Linked DNA regions of Homo sapiens. The protein of the gene in region 2 interacts with the protein of the main gene of each other region in a pairwise test. Each region holds a gene or a part of one and is shown on either strand. Other genes may lie near its edges. The genes, in order: ICAM1 and PELO.

Region 1 (3,922 bases), on a different chromosome or scaffold from region 2:
TGGGGTCTTGCTATGTTGCCCAGGCTGGTGTCCAACTCCTGGCCTCCAAGCGATCCTTCTACTTCGGCCTTCTAAATCACTGGGATTATAGGCATGAGCCACGTGCCTAGCCTGCCCAGTGCTCTTCTGTTTTTTCTTCTTTGATTTTGTTTTGTTTTCATTTGAATTCCTTATTTTGGCCTTGATAACTCTTTCCCACCATTCGAAGTCCCCAAAGTAGGAAGGACGCAAAGAGAAATTCTCGGCTGGGGGCAGTGGCTCACGCCTGTAATCCCAGCACTTTGGGAGGCCGAGGCGGGCAGATCACAAGGTCAGGAGATCAAGACCAGCCTGGCCAACATGATGAAATCCCGTCTCTACTAAAAATACAAAAATTAGCCGGGCGTGGTGCTGGGCGCCTGTAATTCCAGCTACTTGGGAGGCTGAGGCAGGAGAATTGCTTGAACCCGGGAGGGAGAGGTTGCAGTGAGCTGAGATTACACCATTGCACTCCAGGCTGGGGACACAGCAAAACTCCATCTCAAAAAGACAACAACAAAAAAAGAATTCTCAGCCAGGCAAAGTGGCTCACGTTGTAATCCCAGCACTTTGGGAGGCCGAGGCGGGCGGATCACCTGAGGTCAGAGTTCAAGACCAGCCTGACCAACATGGAGAAACCCTGTCTCTACTAAAAATACAAAATTTGCCAGGCGTAGTGGCCCATGCCTGTAATCCCAGCTAGTCGGGAGGCTGAGGCCGGAGAATCACTTAAACTCAGGAGGTGAAGGTTGCGGTGAGCTGAGATCGTGCCATTGCACTCCAGCCTGGGCAACAAGAGTGAAACTCTGTCTCAAAAAAAGGAAAAAACAAAAAGAATTCTCCACACCCAAGCCCTCTCCCACAGCCTCCCAGCCTCTCTTCTCATAGCCAGCTAATATTGTCATTTCTCCCACTTCCTTTTAGGGCTATTTTATACATAAATACAGCCTCCCCGAAACTGCCCTTCCCTAATGTGAGGGTGGCATACCACTCATATTCAACATACCTTCTTTTATTTCTTTTTTTTTTTTTTTTGAGATGGAGTTTTGCTCTTGTTGCCCAAGCTGGAGTGCAGTGGCGCAATCTCAGCTCACCGCAACCTCTGCCTCCCAGTTTCAAGAGATTCTCCTGCCTCAGCCTCCCGAGTAGCTGGGATTACAGGTATGTGCCACTATGCCTGGCTAGTTTTTTTTGTATTTTTAATAGAGACGGGGTTTCTCCATGGTGGTCAGGCTGGTCTCGAACTCCTGACCTCAAGTGATCCGCCTCCCTCAGCCTCCCAAAGTGCTGGGATTACAGGCGTGAGCCACCGTGCCCAGCCCATGACATTTTGAGAACTGATGCCCAATTTCCCGCCACAGGGTTGGGCTTATTTATGCTCCCAACAGCACTGTCCTAGGACCTCCTACGTTCCAATAGCCTTGGCAGCACAGCTGTTATCAATTCTTTTTTTTTTTTTTTTTTTTGAGATGGAGTCTTGCTCTGTCGCCCAGGCTGGAGTGCAGTGGCACGATCTTGGCTCACTGCAAGCTCTGCCTCCCGGGTTCATGCCATTCTCCTGCCTCAGCCTCCTGAGTAGCTGGGACCACAGGCGCCTGCCACCATGCCCGGCTAATTTTTTGTAGTTTTAGTAGAGACGGGGTTTCACCATGTTAGCCAGGATGGTCTCGATCTCCTGACCTTGTGATCCGCCCGCCTCGGCCTCCCAAAGTGCTGGGATTACAGGCGTGAGCCACTGCGCCCGGCCATCAATTCTTTTGTTTGTTACCAATATGTGAAAAATGCCATCCCAGGGCTAGTTTTAACTCATATCTTTTTTTTTTTTTTTAAATAAAAATGGGGTTTTGCTATGTTGCCTAGGATGGATTCGAACTCCTAGGATTCGAACCCCTGGGTTAAAGCAATCCTCCCATCACAGCCTCAGGAGCAGCTGGGATTACAGGTGCACACCACGATGCCCAGCTAAATTATTTACTTTTTTTTTCCGGTAGAAACAGGGTCTTGGATGGGCACAGTGGCTTACACCTGTAATCCCAGCACTTTGGGAGGCCGAGGCGGGCGGACCACTAGGTCAGGAGATTGAGACCATCCTGGCTAACACAGTGAAACCCCGTCTCTACTAAAAATACAAAAAAATGAGCCGGGCATGGTGGCAGGCGCCTGTAGTCCCAGCTACTCGGGAGGCTGAGGCAGGAGAATGGCGTGAACCCGGGAGGCGGAGCTTGCAGTGAGCCGAGATCACACCACTGCACTCCAGCCTGGGCGACAGAGTGAGACTCCGTCTCAAAAAAAAAAAAAAAAAAAAGAAAGAAACAGGGTCTCACTCTGTTGCCCAGGCTGGTCTCAAACTCCTGGGCTCAAACCATCCTTCTGCCTCAGCCTCTGGAGTAGTTGGGATTATAGGTACAAGCCACCACACTTGGCTTAATTTGCATCTTTTATTAAAGTGTCTGAAGCAGGACCGTGTCATATGTTCAAAGAGTGAGGCATAGAGAGATGGCATTTTTTTTTTCTTGAGATGGAATCTTGCTCTGTTATCCAGACTGGAGTGCACTGGCACGATCGCGGCTCACTGCAATCTCTGCCTCTCAGGTTCAAGCGTTCTCCTGCCTCAGCCTTCCAAGTAGCTGGGATTACAGGCGCTTGACACCATGCCCGGCTGATTTTTGTATTTTCAGCAGAGACAGGGTTTCGCCATGTTGGCGAAACTTAAACTCCTGATCTCAGGTGATCCGCCAGCCTCAGCCTCTCAAAGTGCTGGGATTACAGGCATGAGCCACCGCACCCAGCCTGTAAATACTTTAATTGTACCCAAAGAAATTCACAAAGGGACTTTCCAAGGATGTCCCCACCTGCCCTGCAAGGAGCCCCTCCTTGACCCTACGAGCAAGTGGCAAAGATTCCCCCAGGCCTCTGCAGGTGCCCCTGCACGTCTCTCCCACCGGGTCTGCCTAGTCCAGCCCTCCGGGCTCAGTTACTCACAGTACACGGTGAGGAAGGTTTTAGCTGTTGACTGCCCATCAGGGCAGTTTGAATAGCACATTGGTTGGCTATCTTCTTGCACATTGCTCAGTTCATACACCTTCCGGTTGTTCCCAGGCAGGAGCAACTCCTTTTTAGGCAACGGGGTCTCTATGCCCAACAACTTGGGCTGGTCACAGGAGGTGCTGCATGTCACCAGCACGGAGCCTCCCCGGGGCAGGATGACTTTTGAGGGGGACACAGATGTCTGGGCATTGCCAGGTCCTAGAAGAAACGAGGGAAGAGGCGACAGGCATTACAAATCAGGTTCATCAAGGGAATGTGCGCCCAGCCTGTGCTGGGTGCTGGAGGCACAGCCTTAACAAGACAATACTTTGCCTTCGATGTGGAAGTTAAAGAGAAAATTCATGAGCAGGCCGGGTGTGGTGGCTCACGCCTGTAATCCCAGCACTTTGGGAGGCCAAGGCGGGCAGATCACTTGAGGTCAGGAATTTGAGATCAGCCTGGCCAACATGACAAAGCCCCGTCTCCACTAAAAATACAAAAATTAGCTGGGCATGGTGGGACGTGCCTGTAGTCCTAGCTATTTGGGAGGCTGAGGCACAAGAATCACTTGAACCTGGGAGGTGGAGGTTACAGTGAGCCAAGATTGTGCCACTGCACTCCAGCCTGAGCAACAGAACGAGACTCTGTCTCCAAAAAAAAAAAAAAAAAAATTATGAGCAAACAAGATAATTAATAACTGATGTTAATATGAGCTTTGACAAAAACAAAACAGGGTGATAGAATAGACAGTGCTTTGGTGACAGGGTAATGTTTCAGCAGAGATCTAAATGACGAGAAAGGGCTGGCTGTCCGGAGAAAAGGGAAATAAGTTCCAGGCAAGTACAGATGTCCCGGGGCAGGGTGGCTGGAGCTGAGT
Region 2 (3,922 bases):
CAAAATAATACAAAACCTCCTACCAAATAAACAAAATCCTATGAACAGAAGTGTGTGTGTGTGTGTGTGTGTGTGTGTGTGTGTGTATTTCTATTTGCATGTATTCTTATACGGCATAAGATCATTTCACCAAAAATATTATAAGTAAAATGTGTTACACAGATATTTTTAAGGATTGGCCAGTACCCATGTATTTCTAGACTTTAGTATTTGGTAAAATAAAAGTCTAATTAATAAAATAATTTTGAAAGTACATTTAATTTGTAGTAAGGATATATGATTTGTAACAAAATATATAAACCATCTTAACTATTGATGTTTTAAAGTGACTTAGGTGCTATATTTAAATTTAAGAATTTGCATTTATTTTAGGAGATCTCATATAATTCATACAAAAAGAGTATGTGTATCCACTCCTTTGCATATTTGAATTACAATGATTTCTCATTTCAGATCTCTTACTTATCTTGTTAATAGGGATCTCCTGTTTGGATAAAATTGATTTTTTTTAACACATAAAGTGAATTCCTAACACCAACCAGCATATGCATTTTAATTTCCTTTTAAAACTTAGTTGACTTTTTTATCTTCCTTTTAAATCATAGGAAAGTTTTGATTAAAATTAGTCTTCTTCCTATATACACAACCCTGGAGCTTACCACCAACATGACAAAAAGTTAAGAGTTTGCCAAAGCTAGAGTCATTAATCCTGTGCAACTGGAACATTATATGATTACTTTATTGTCACCTTTCTCCTGAAGCTCTCTTCTAAAGATAGAGCATTTGGAGGGAGCTCTGTTTTTGGGATCTGGTGAGGCTGTTGGTGCCAGAGGAGCAATTATCCCCTAAATCAGATATAAACTTGGCACTTGAAGAGAACTGAGAGGAACAATGTTATATCTCTGTATCTAGATGGGGTTCACATACTAGCCTCTTCAAAATCTTATGACACAATTTTTAAGTGTCCAAACAAATAGAAAAGTACCATGGTAAAAAGTACCATACACTGTATATTATTGATTGTAATTTTCAGACGCACATTTTCCCAATTTTGACATCTCTGAAACTAGGAACTATCTAACAATCTAGCAATTATAATTGGATTGGGAGTGGCTTGTCTTTTTTAGTGGTACATAAAATAATGGTGCATCTTTCAACTGATGGTGTCTTCCATTCCATTATTTATAAATTTGGATAGACAGAAATATTTCAGGCAGAGGTATAATAAAATAAGGCAGAGGTATATAATAAAGGGACAATCTGATCCCTTAAGTATTTTCTGAGTTTGTCAATAGTCAATTCTTTTGCGATTCATTCAATTAAAAAGTGCCTATTATTTCTAGGTGTTATGGTTAAAGATCCTACCCTCACAGAGCATACAGCAAGCTGGAAAGACAGGCAATTAGATAGTTAATTATAATACCGTGGTGCATTATATAATAGAAGCAAAGGTGCTGGGATACACATGTCCTAAGGTAGGGTCCAATCTACTTCAGGGTATCTCTTGGAAATGACGTTTATTCAGGGATTGAGATCAGTAGCAGTGGGAGTAACTACTTATGCAAAGTCCCCAAGGAGACTTTAGAGTAGCTGGCATAATAAAGGAGCTGAAAGAAGCTCAATAATCTTGAAGATAGAAATATATGCAGTCATTTGCATCTCTTGATACTCTACTGTACTTGCTTTGAGGGCGAATACAATTCTCCAGTCACAGACTGCTCTGAATAGGCAATCTATTCTGACTTTAGCACTGTGGCAACAGTTTCAAAATATCTTTCATCTCAGTTTCTTAACATGAATTTGAGTACACTATTTTGTATTTCACACAACAGAAGAGAAGTGTAGGTAAAGAATAGCATTTTAGTCCCCAACTTTTCTAAATATATTTTAAACATGAGCTACTTTATTCTACTAAAATATGTTAAGATGTGGAAATTCAGCAAGTTCTAAATCTAGTGGGAAGTTTATTGGGTTGGAAGTGGAGGAACATGTTAGAGGAGCATCTATCTACTGAAGTCAGAACATCAGTGATAAGCTGTGGCCCAAGAGCTCATGCTTCAAAATAGCTGGGTAAGTGTTATGACAGGAGGGAAGAGAAATAGTTAAACTAGTATAGCATATATATGTGTCTCATGGTTACTCTCATTGCCTGTTTACTAAACAAACAAAAATCCCGTGAATTCATTGCTGCCTTTACAAACATCACAATGAGTAAGACAATTTTCACCATCTTCAGCAATTCCTGACAATACATTGTCTGCCATTGGGAGTCATTCTTTGTTTTGAATAAGTGGCTGACTTCCTCCCCATATTCAGCCATCTCCCATCTCCTCACTGGATTTCATTTTGAATAGGAAATCTTGCCTGTGAAAAGAAGACCCTTGCTTCTAGGCCAACCAAAATGTTTCTAGGGAAGAGAGACATATAGTTTAATTAGGGCTAATTCTATATTTATATTCTTAATAACGAGAAATAGTAGTCTTACTTGAGTTACACTTAATGCTGTACACCTAAAAATCATGGAAATAAAAGATTGACTTGTATCATTAATTAGGTCTTTATCCAAGTATTTTAGACAACTATGTTTGGATTTCACATTTAGAGGAGTGAGCAAGAGAGAATGAACTTATCTTTAGGCAGCCAATATAGCATATTATTTTAGAGCATTTAATTTGAGGTCAGAGATATGAATTGAGTAGATTTGTCATTAGTTCTTCAACTTTGGACAAATGAAATTAACTTCTTAATACTATATTTTGATTTCCTCATCTCTAAAATATTGATAATAGTTATAAAGTTTTAATTTTTTCTTTTCTTTTTTTCAAGGCTAATCAACAAGCTGAGGGAGTGAAAAAAGAACAAAGAAATCTGTGACTGCTTGTGATCAATTAGTAAACTTAATTTTTTAGATTAAAATGAAATAATACATGCAAAGCCCTTGGCACAGTGCCTTGCACATAATACATTTCGGGGTTAAGTTGTGCTAGCTATTCTGTTATTGATTGTCTTGCCCTTTGTTCTCTGGAAGGTTGGATCTTGCCATTTGGGGATGGCCAATGGGAAGGCTGAGCAAGACATCAGAGGGTGGGAGGAAAGGAGGTATATTTATTTTCCTTACTCCTTCTCTGCTGGGCTTCAATTTTGTCACTAGCTGCATTCCTTTTTATGACCACAACTCCAGTCTAATGGCCACCCTCCCATAACTAGAGTTCATAATCAAACTAACACTGCCACCTCCTCAGGCCTAGGAATGGTCATGGTTTTTCTTCTCACCTTGCTTCAGGTTCTTTTTTCCCTACTGTTGCTTGCGCTAGATGCTCCACCCTCTTTTCTTGTTCCTTTAAGGCCTCTCTAAACTGTCACTTTATGAAACTGTCTTCAGTTAAATCCTTTATATGTGACATCAGTTTATGCTGAGACTTTGACATACATAAAATAACAATCCTTTGGACATAAGGACATCTTTTTGATGAATCATTTTAGTAAACGTTGTAAGGAGCTAATATAAGACAGTCTAAATCAAATAGGAAGTTTATTGGGATGCTGGTGGCTTGTTGTTCTGATGTAAACCCAGTTTGGAAGGCTGTAGAGAGTTTATTTAGATGTCAGAGGGTGGTAGGATGGAAAGGTGGAATTCTTTTCTCGATGTATAAAACAAGGTCATATCTTCAGTGGCAAAATGAACATGAGGATTATGGAGAAAGTAAAGAAAAGTGATTGGCTATAATGGACAGTTTATGCTTATGGGTTGTGGTAGGCAGAATAATGGTCTCCCAAAGATATCCATGACCTAATGCCTGGAACCTGTGAATATGTTATCTTAGATGGTAAAAGGGACTTGGAAGATGTAATTAAATTAAAGATCTTGAGATGAGGAGATTATTCTGGTAGGCACATTGTAATTACAAGGATCCTTAGGAAG

Evidence for each region.
Region 1: the proteins of PELO (region 2) and ICAM1 interact in binary tests that used the Homo sapiens proteins (3 or more experiments, as listed by UniProt).

The regions. Positions count from the first base shown.
Region 1 is NC_000019.10:10,274,107-10,278,028, reverse strand, and holds part of ICAM1 (intercellular adhesion molecule 1 precursor), read right to left. Parts: intron 3,265-3,922; coding exon 3,001-3,264; intron 1-3,000. UniProt on the Homo sapiens protein: ICAM proteins are ligands for the leukocyte adhesion protein LFA-1 (integrin alpha-L/beta-2).
Region 2 is NC_000005.10:52,790,665-52,794,586, reverse strand, and holds part of PELO (protein pelota homolog), read right to left. Parts: intron 1-3,922. UniProt on the Homo sapiens protein: Component of the Pelota-HBS1L complex, a complex that recognizes stalled ribosomes and triggers the No-Go Decay (NGD) pathway.